2 separate regions of the Homo sapiens genome follow, and region 2 is linked to region 1. The links come from fine-mapping of genetic effects on gene expression. A gene starts in region 1. The other region holds a variant in brackets. All regions are shown on one strand. Distances are from middle to middle.

Region 1 (5,376 bases):
CTGACATGGCCTGGAGACATTTTCCCCATGGTCCTAATTAGGTTCCTTGCTACTTATGCAAATTTCTGCATCTGGCTTGAATTTCTCCCTAGAAAATGGGTTTTTCTTTTCTATCACATAGTCAGGCTACAAATTTTCCAAACTTTTCTGCTCTGCTTCCCCTATAAAACTGAATACCTTTAACAGTACCCAAGTCACCTCTTGAATGCTTTGCCACTTAGAAATTTCTTCCACTAGATACCCTAAAACATCTTTCTCAAGTTCAAAGTTCCACAAATCTCTAGGGCAGGGGCAAAATGCCATCAGTCTCTCTGCTAAAACATAACAAGAGTCACCTTTACTCCAGTTCCCAACAAGTTTCTCATCTCCATCTGAGACCACCTCAGCCTGGACCTTATTGATCATACCACTATCAGCATTTTGGGCAAAGTCACTCAACAAGTCTCTAGGAAGTTCCAAACTTTCCCACATTTTCCTGTCTTCTTTTGAGCCCCCCATACTGTTCCAACCTCTGACTGTTACCCAGTTCCAAAGATGCTTCTACATTTTTGGGTATCTTTTCAGCAACGCCCCACTTACCGCTACCAATTTACAGTATTAGTCTGTTTTCACACTGCTGCTAAAGACATACCTGAGACTGGGAAGAAAAAGAGGTTTAATTGAACTTAAGTTCCACATGGCTGGGGAGGCCTCAAAATCATGGCGGGAGGTGAAAGGCGCTTCTTAACATGTTGATGGCAAAAGAAAATGAGAAAGAAGCAAAAAAGGAAACCCCTGATAAACCCATCAGATCTTGTGAGACTTATTCACTATCACAAGAATAGCATGGGAAAGACTGGCCCCATGATTCAATTACTTTCCCCGGGTCCCTCCCACAACACGTGGGAATTCTGGGAGATAGAATTCAAGTTGAGATTTGGGTGGGGACACAGCCAAACCATATCATGAACCAAGAGAGAAAGAAACATGTTTTAATGAATCTTCTCAGGCGGCTGAGGCAGGAAGATGGCTTGAGCCCAGGAGATGGAGGTTGCAGTATGTTATGATTTTGCCACTGCCTGGGTGACAGAGTGAGATCCATCTCAAAAAAATAAATTAGAAAAAGATAAACTGCAGAGCATAAATGTTATGGGCTACTTTTGACAGAGGAATCAAATCTTCCTTGCCAAATTTAGACCCGTGTGGGTCAGCAGAAATTGACTAGAAATAGTGGCCACCGAATGGTAACTCACAAGGGTAGCAGTTAAAGTTGGTAAAATTTTAAATGCACACAAAACCAATGGACGAATCAACTTTTCCTCGCAAAACCAACAACTAAGTTTCAACAACTGAGAAAAAGTTTCATATTATCAGGCCAGACACTGTGGCTCACACCTGTAATCCCAGCACTTTGGGAGACTGAGGTTGGGGGACAGCTTCAGTCCAGGAGTTCGAGACCATCCTGGGCAACATAGCAAGACTCTGTCCTTAAAAAAAGAACTTCAAAAGCAACTGTATTAAAGGGAGTTACAGATGGATATATACAGTAAAATTGTTTAAAAGTAGAACACTATCTAAATAGTAGAACAGCATTACCCGAAGTTCAGAAATACATTACTAACACTATAATTGTTTTTGGACACACACATATGAAGTAACGTAAAAGGAAGGGTGCAAATTCACTTTATAATAGCAATTATCTATGAAGACAGTTTCAAAAAGGGCAACAAATATATCTATAAATGTTTTGAGCCAGTTGCTGTGGCTCATGCCTGTAATCTGAACACTTTGGGAGGCTAAGTCGGGAGAATCACTTGAGCCCAGGAGTTCGAGACCAGCCTGGGCAGCATAGTGAGACTCCGTCTCTACAAAAAATAAAAAATTAGCAGGTGTAGTGGCGAGCGCCCGTGGTTCCAGCTACTCAGGAGGCTGATGCGAGAGGATCGCTTGAGCTTGGGAGGTCGAGGCTGCAATCGCACCACTGCACTCCAGCCTGAGCAGCAGAGCGAGACTCTGTCTCAAAAACAAAACAAAAACTTGATAACATAGTCATAAATTAGCATTTATCGAATGATAAATATGTGCCAGACTGTTCTAAGCCCTTTCCCTGCGTGATCTCAGTGAAGTCCCATAATAGCCCCGTGAGGCAGGTACTGTCCTTTATCCCCATTGCAGGGATGAGGAAATTGAGGCCCTGAGGTCGAAGAGGAGCTGGTAAGCGATGATGCCGAGATAGGCCCCGGATCGCCTGGCTCTAAATCCCCAGCCCGGGCCCCGACACACAGTCCCAGGGTGGGAGAGGTGGTCTTCGGGGTCCGGGCACCGCGACCGCGGCCCAGGCCCGCCCGGCCAGCTGCGCGTACCGTGTAGAGCGTCAGGTCGACATGTCGCCACAGCCACCGGTCGTCCACCAGCCTCTTCCAGCGGTGACAGACCCTGGGGGAGGGGACGCGCGGTTAGAACGACCCCAGCCCCGGGCCACATCGCATCTCCAGGTGCCAGCTGCGCCCTCCGCCCTGCCCTTCCCCCCGGAGGCGGGGCCGCACCTGGAGATGCGGATCCGGTCCCGTACCGGGAGGTAAGAGAAGATCTCGAGCAGGACCGAGTCCGGCAGTTCGACCAAAGTCGCCATGATCCCGCCGACACGCACTTCCGCTTCCGGTTAAAGAGACCCGAGGGGTCCTGGGGGCGCCGAGGCGGCTGACAGGGCGGCGGCCGCGACCTTCCCGTAGCCGGTCGAGAAATTTGACCTTCCTCTCGCTGGGAAGTGATTCGGTCCCAGGGCCGGACCAGCCGCGGATGGGGACCAGAAACCAGCCTGGAAAGCGTGGCTGAGGCAGTGAGAGGCTTGCGGGAGGTGGCTGAGGCGTGATTTGGCCGCGACTGGGAACTAAGACCAAGTCCAGAAGGCGGGGCTGGAGTGAGGCGAAGCTCGGAGGCGGGGCTAGAGACGAGGACCAAGTCCGGAAGGCGTGGCCGGGGTGGGGTGAGGATCGGAGGCGGGGCTAGAGACCAGGACCAAGTCCGGAAGGCGTGGCTGGGGTGGGGCGAGGATCGGAGGCGGGGCTAGAGACGGGGACCAAGTCCGGAAGGCGTGGCTGGGGAGGGGCGAGACCCGGGGACGGGGCTAGAGGCGAGGCCCAAGCCCGGAAGGCGTCGCTGGAGTTGGGCGAGGCTCAGGGGCGGAGCCAGAGAACGGAACCAAGTCCAGAAGGCGGGGCTGGGGCGCGGCTAGGGGGCGGGGCTAGAGACGAGGACCAAGTCCAGAAGGCGTGGCTGGGGTGGGGCGAGGATCAAGCCCGGAAGGCGCGGCTGGAGCGGGGCGAGGCCTAGGTGGGGCTGCAGACGAGAACCACGCCTTGGAGGCGTGGCTAGGGCGGGTAGAGGCTCGGACAACCGCTGGAAGGCGGGGCTGGGGCGGGGCGAGACCTTGGGGGCGGGGTTGACGACGAGGACCTAGCCGAGAGGTCGTGGTCTGGACGGAAACCAGGCTGCAGCAGGACCAGGCGCCAAGGGCGTGGCTGGGGAGCGATGGAGACGCTCGGAAGGTGGGGAGCGGGGGACGGAGACAGGGAGAAGACTACGCCATGAAGGCGTGGTTGAGGCGGGGCGAGGCCTGTGGGTCTGGCCCCGAGCGAATGGCTTGGTAGAGAGTCAGAGAACTCTATTTTTTTACTTAATGATGCTTCTTGATGTCTATGCACAAGGATAAATTTGTATTACTGGAATATCGTGGCCAAAGGACCTGTTGAATTTTTCACTTTCATTGATACTACAGATATTTTCTGAATTGGCAAGTCCACCAAGAAACTATAAAAATGTGTGTGTGCAATGGCTGCACACAGCAGCTTCCTTGGTAGTGTACGCAGCCTGTTGGTTGTATGGGTTGCTCTAAGGGACCTTGGAGACAGGCCTTTCCGATGGATGTTCATGTTTCTAACCTTGCACTACCACAATGTAGGCTCCAAACAGGCATGTGAGGTGCCTTTGGAAAGCCCCAGGGCACTGTGGCCAGGGTTGACATTGGCCAAGTTATCATGTCCATCCGCACCAAGCTGCAGAACAAGGAGCATGCGATTGAGGCCTTGCGCAGGGCCAAGTTCAAGTTTCCTGGCCGCCAGAAGATCTACATCTCAAAGAAGTGGGGCTTCACCAAGTTCAATGCTGATGAATTTGAAGACATGGTGGCTGAGAAGCGGCTCATCCCAGATGGCTGTGGGGTCAAGTACATCCCCAATCGTGGCCCTCTGGACAAGTGGCTGGCCCTGCACTCATGAGGGCTTCCAATGTGCTGCCCCCCCTATTAATACTCACCAATAAATTCTACTTCCTGTCCAAAAAAAAAAATGTGTGTGTGTGTGTGTGTGTGTGTGTGTGTATATATATATATATATATATATACACACACACACACACACGCACGCCTCCTGAAGCCAGGAGGCGGAGATTGCAGTGACCTGAGATCGCGCCACCACACTCCAGCCTGAGTGACAGAGCGAAACTCCGTCTCAAAAAAAAAAAAAAAGAATATGAAAGAGATTGTGGAGGTTGCAGTGAGCCCAGATCGCGCCACTGCACTCCAGCCTGTGCGACGGGTGCGAGACTCCATCTCAAAAAAAAAAAAAAATCATGTTACTGCAAAGGACATGATTTCATTATCTTTTTTTTTTTTTAAATTTGGGACAGGGTCTCTCTCTGTCACCCAGTCTGGAGTGCAGTGGCGAAATTATAGCTCACTGCAGCCTTAACCTCTGGGGCTCAAGTGATCCGATCCTTCCACCTCAGTCTCCCGAGTAGCTGGGACTGTAGGCACATGCCAACACGCCCGGCTAATTTTTGTTTTGTTTTTTGAGATGAAGTCTTGCTGCATCACCCAGGCTGGAGTGCAGTGGCACAATCTCGGCTCACTGCAACCTCCGCCTCCCAGGTTCAAGTGATTCTCCTGCCTCAGCCTCCCGAGTAGCTGGGACTACAGGCGCCCGCCACCATGTCCGGCTAATTTTTATGTTTTTAGTAGAGATCAGGTTTCACTATATTGGCCAGGCTGGTCTCAAACTTCTGACCTCAGGTGATCCACCTGCCTCAGCTTCCCAGAATGCTGGGATTACAGGTGTGAGCCACTGCGCCCGGCTAATTTTTGTATTTTTTTCTAGAGCCGGGGTTTTGCCATGTTGCTCAGGCTGGTCTTGAACTCCTGGGCTCAAGTTCTTCCTGCCTCAGCCTCCCAAAGTACTAGGATTACAGGCGTGAGCCACCACGCCCAGCTGATTGCATTTTTTTTATGGCTGCATTACGTGTGTCTTCTTGGCTTGTTGCCCTCCTATATCAGACTGAATTCTGGGGTGGCAGGTGGGACTTGTGCACCCCGGCCCTGCTGAGGTGCTCAGGTAATGGGGG
Region 2 (5,376 bases), 720 kb before region 1:
AGGCTGAGGCAGGAGAATCACTTGAACCTGGGAGGCGGAGGTTGCAGTGGGCCGAGATGGCACCACTGCAACCTGCACTTCAGCCTAAGGGATGGAGCGAGACTGTCTCAAAATAAATAAATAAATAAATAAATAAGTTGAAGTGTCTCAAGTTGATATAATGTGGATGTTTCTCTCCTCCAGATCTTATGTTGAAATGTGATCCCCAGTGTCGGAGGTGAGGCCTAGGCAGAGGTGTTTGATTATGGGGGCAGATTCATCATGAAGAATTTAGTGCCCTCCCCATAGTAATGAGGAAGTTCTTGCTCTACTACTTCACAAAGACCCTGGCACTCCTCCCCTCTCTCTCTTCCTCTCTCACCATTTGACTTGCCAGCTCCCCTTGCCCTTCCACCGTGATTGGAAGCTTCCTGAGGTCTGCACCAGAAGTAGATGATGGCACCACCCTTCTTGTACAGTCTGCAGAACTGTGAGACAAATAAACCTCTTTTCTTTATAAATTACCCAGACTCTAGGCTGGGCTCAGTGGCTCACGCCTATAATCCCAGCACTTTGGGAGGCTGAGGCAGGCAGATCACCTGAGGTCAGGAGCTCAAAAGCAGTCTGGCCAACATGGTGAAACCCTGTCTCTACCAAAAATACAAAAATTAGCTGGGCGTGGTGGCGCACTCCTGTAATCCCAGCTTCTGGAGAGGCTGAGGCAGGAGAATCACTTGAACCCAGGGGGCAGAGGTTGCAGTGAGCTGAGACTGCACCACTGCACTCCTGCCTGGGCGACAAGAGCGACACTCTGTCTCAAAATAAATAAATAAATAAATAACCCAGACTCAGGTATTCCTTGTAGCAACACAAACACTGATATAGAAGTCTTCCTAAATACGTAAATAAATATGATAATGCTAACTTAAAAAAATTTTTTTTTGAGAAGGAGTTTCACTGTGTCACCCAGGCTGGAGTGCAATGGCGCCATCTTGGCTCATTGCAACCTCCACCTCCCCGGTTCAAGTGATTCTCCTGCCTCAGCCTCCCGAGTAGCTGGGATTACAGGTGTGTGCCACCACGCCCAGCTACTTTTTTGTATTTTTAGTACAGACAGCATTTCACCATGTTGCCCAGGCTGGTCTCGCACTCCTGACCTCAGGTGATCCACCCGCCTCGGCCTCCCAAAGTGCTGGGATTGCAGGTGTGAGCCACTGCGCCTGGCCGATAATGCTAACTTTATAGGGGAGCAAATAGAGCTTGGAACAGTGAAATAAAGTGTCAACAATTATACGGTTATTTACAAAGCACAGGTGGGATTCAAAGCCAGTTGGTCTGATTCCAAATTCTCACCCTTAACCATGATGATCTTCTCTTGTATTTGAAGACCTTAATCAGGTTTTCCGGATCATTCATTATGAATTTCTCTTTTGTATATTTCACAGCTTAAAGTCCGAAGTAGCTGGCATGTTAGTGGAATGATGACACTCTAGAAATGGGTTTCTGAGAGGTGAGATCCACAGGGAGAAAAGGCCGGTGCAGTGGCTCATGCCTGTAATCCTGGCACTTTGGAAGCTGAGGCGAGTGGACTGCACGAGCTCAGGAGTTTGAGACTACCCTGTGCAACATAGTGAAACCCCCTCTCTACAAAAAATACAAAAATTAGCCAGATGTGGTGGTGTGAACCTGTAGTCTCAGCTACTCCAGAGGCTGAGGTGAGAGGATGCGTCACCTGAGCCTGGGGTGGTTGAGGCTGCAGTGAGCCATGATCACACCACTGCACTCTAGCCTGGGCAACAGAGTGAGATCCTGCTAAAAAAAAACAAAACAAAAAAACAACAACAAAAAAAAAACACACACACACATAAATTGCCTAGTAGGAAACTCTCATCCTTGTTTATTTTATTTATTTATTTATTTATTTATTTTGAGACAAAGTCTTGCTCTGTCGCCAGGCTGGAGTGCAGTGGCAAGATCTCAGCTCACTGCAACCTCCGCTTCCCAGGTTCAAGCGATTCTCCTGCCTCAGCCTCCGGAGTAGCTGGGACTACAGGTATGTGCCACCATGCCCGGCTAATTTTTGTATTTTTAATAGAGACAGGGTTTCACCATGTTGGCCAGGCTGGTCTTGAGCTCCTGACCTCAGGTGATCCGCCTGCCTCAGCCTCCCAAAGTGCTGGGATTTCAGGCATGAGCCACAGCGCCCGGCCTCATCTTCCTTCTGTACTGGATTCAACACCTCTTTCTCTACATACCTTTAAAGGTGTCCTCACTTTAGCAAACAATATCAGAAAGATTAATACTACATTTCAGCTTAAAAATAAAATTAATTCATAAGGATGTGTGTATTTTTAAAAATTTTACATTCCTGCATAAGAATATGTGGTATTACTTTCTCTTGCATTCAAATTGTCTCTTTCATTCTGAGAATGCCACCAGATGATGAAAAGCATGACAACTTTTTTTTTTTTAGATGGAGTCTTGCTGTGTTGCCCAGGCTGGAGTGCAGTGGTATGATCTTAGCTCATTGCAAACCTCCGTCTCCCGGGTTCAAACGATTCTTCTGCCTCAGCCTCCCAGCCTGGGTGAGAGTAAGACC[C/G]TTCTCAAAAAAAAATAAAAAAGGAAACAACAATCAGGGCACAAAATTCGTTCATGAAGTTTCAACTTTTACAATGTCAAAAAGAATAAAATTTGATTAATAAATTGTCTAGGGCTATAAACAACATGCATATTAAAAGGACAGATTTGTAGGGCAAAAATGTACAAGACTGTCAATCAAATACTAATTAATAAAAAAATCACTAATCAAATACAGCATCAATAAAATTCCTGTCTCCATGGTTACATTACTTCTTCCTTTTCTTTGTGTTTCCTCCACTTCTGTCTTTTTTTTTCTTTTTTTTTTTTTTTTGTTTGAGACTGAATCTCACTCTGTTGCCCAGGCTGGAGTGCAATGGTGCAATCATAGCTCACTGCAGTCTCCAACTCCTGGGCTCAAGCGATCCTCCCATTTCAGCCTCTCAAGTAATTGGGACTACAGGTACACACCACTGTGCCAAGCTAATTTTTAAAATTTTTTGTAACAGGGTCTGATTTTGTTGCCCAGCTGGGTTCAAACTCCTGGCCTCAAGCAATTCTCTTGCCTCAGCCTCCCAACGTGTTGGAATTACAAGGATGAACCACTGCGCCTGGCCTCCACCTCTGCCTATCTTATAAGAAAACATGTGGTTACATTTAGAGCCTGCCCAGGTAATCCAGGGTAAGCTGCTTCTCTGCAAAGACCCTTTTCCCAAATAAGTCACATTCACCCTTTTGTCATATGATTTAAGGCCAGGTGCGGTGGCTCACGTCTGTAATCCCAGCATTTTGGGAGGCTGAGGCAATTGTATCACTTGAGTCCAGAAGTTCAAGACCAGCCTGGCCAACATGGCAAAAACCCATCTCTACTAAAAATATAAAAATTAGCAGGCTGTGGTGGCAGGCACCTGTAATCCCAGCTACTCAGGAGGCAGAGGAAGGAGGATCTCTTGAACCCGGGAAGCGGAGGTTGCAGTGAGCCGAGATCACGCCACTGCACTCCAGCCTGGGCGACAGGGCAAGACTCCAGCTCAGATAGATAGATAAATAAATAAATAAATAAATAAATAAATAAATAAATAAAAGCTCAGATTCACAAGCGAGAGGATTAAAATGTGGATATAGTCTTCTGAGGGCCATGAGCCAACTCATGACAGAAATGTCTTCTGGTTGACTCCATGAAAGTTATCTATTATCAATGGACCCAGGGAAGGGTTCTCCATTTTCTGTCTCTGGGAATCAGGTCTAGATATGTCTCTTGCATTGACTGCAACTACCTGTTGCAGTCAGAGGAAAACCAGTGCTGGGGGGAGGGAACCTCGTGAAGGACTGAATGAAGCCCTCTCCTATTCGTGCACATTCCTTAATTCTGAGGTCCTTGTAATGAAAGAGAACTGTCTTTACTGTTTGAGCATATTAGAGTTAGGGGTGCTATTTATTTATTTATTTATTTATTTATTTTTTGAGTCTTGCTCTGTCTCCCAGGCTGGAGTGCAGTGGTGCAATCTCGGCTCACTGCAACCTCCGCCTCGCGGGCTCAAGCAATTCTCCTGCCTCAGCCTCCCGAGTAGCTGGGATTACAGGCTCCAGCTACCACACATGGCTAACTTTTGTATTTTTAGTAGAGATGGGGTTTCACCACGTGGGCCAGGCCAGTTTTGAACTCCTGACCTCAAGTGATCCACCCACCTTGGCCTCCCAAAGTGCTGGGATTACAGGTGTGAGCCACTGTGCCCAGCCCAGGGCTCCTATTCTTTAAACTGGAACCTAAGGTATCCTCACTTATGAAGTTCAAATATCTCACAATAATCTCAAATCACTAAGATAATCTAATCATGCTAATTTTTTGATGATAAAACTGAGTATAATAGATGCTAATGTTGTCTAGGGAGAATATAGTTTACCAGTGACTGGTCCCAGTAGTTACTAAATTGGGTATGAAAACTTAGCTCCCTTGACCCACTGTAGGTCTACACTGGGGTGCAATTGACAAGACCCTAAATACGCAATAAGGTGGAAGCTTGTCTCCAGATATAACAACAACCTCGCTTAAATCCTTTTCCTGGCAGCGCACAGTGACTTCACCACTAATCTCAGATCTTTGGGAGGCCATGGCAGGAGGATCACTTGAACCTAGGTTTTGAGACCAACCTGGGCAACATAGCCAGAGTCCATCTCTACACCACACCCCACACTGGACGTGGTGGTGCATGCCTGGAGTCCTAGCTTCCTAGGAGGCTGAGGTAGGAGGGTCCCTGGAGTTTGAGCCCTGGAGTCCTGGAGTTTGGGGCTGCAGGGAGCTATGATCATGTCATTGCATTCCAGCCTAGGTGACAAAGCAAGACCCTGTCTATGGAAAAAAAGAAACAAAAAACAAAACTGCCCAGCTACTTGGGAGCCTGAGGTAGGAGAATCGCTTGAACCCAGAAGGCGGAGGTTGCAGTTAGCCGAGATTGCGCCATTGCACTCCAGCCTGGTGGACAGAGCAAGACTCCGTCTCAGCAAAACAAAAAACAAAAAACCTAAACTAAACAAAAAACCAAAAATACATTTTCCTGACCTATCCTCCTGAACTATCTACCTTCCACAACTTTTCTTCTTCTGAGACTAATCCATTAAAAAAAAATCACTTAGCCAGGAGCGGTGGCTCACGCCTCTAATCCCAGTAATCCCAGAACTTTGGGAGGCCGAGGCGAATGGATCACAAGGTCAGGAGATCGAGACCACCCTGGCCAGCATGATGAAACCTCACCTCTACTAAAAGTACAAAAATTAGCCGGGTGTGGTGTCGTGCACCTGTAGTCCCAGCTACTCAGTAGG

Evidence for each region. PIP is the estimated chance that this variant, and not a neighbour inherited with it, causes the effect.
Region 2: its variant is fine-mapped to the expression of FBXL12 in cerebellum (GTEx, PIP 0.93).

Annotation. Positions count from the first base shown.
Region 1 is chr19:9,816,203-9,821,578 of GRCh38, forward strand. It overlaps FBXL12 (F-box and leucine rich repeat protein 12), which reads right to left and starts at 2,877. Exons shown (of 3, transcript NM_017703.3): 1 at 2,526-2,877; 2 at 2,343-2,415. The coding sequence starts at 2,611. LOC124900430 (small nucleolar RNA SNORA70) reads left to right here and starts at 3,752; the gene lies at 3,752-3,892. It also overlaps the pseudogene RPL10P15. RefSeq lists silencers at 2,369-2,528, 2,979-3,068, 3,289-3,438.
Region 2 is chr19:9,096,238-9,101,613 of GRCh38, forward strand. OR7G2 (olfactory receptor family 7 subfamily G member 2) reads right to left here. Exons shown (of 2, transcript NM_001005193.2): 2 at 4,170-5,376. Among named protein-coding and RNA genes, the nearest start is that of OR7G2, 8.5 kb to the right of the region's middle. The variant C/G (reference allele first, on the strand shown) is at 2,579.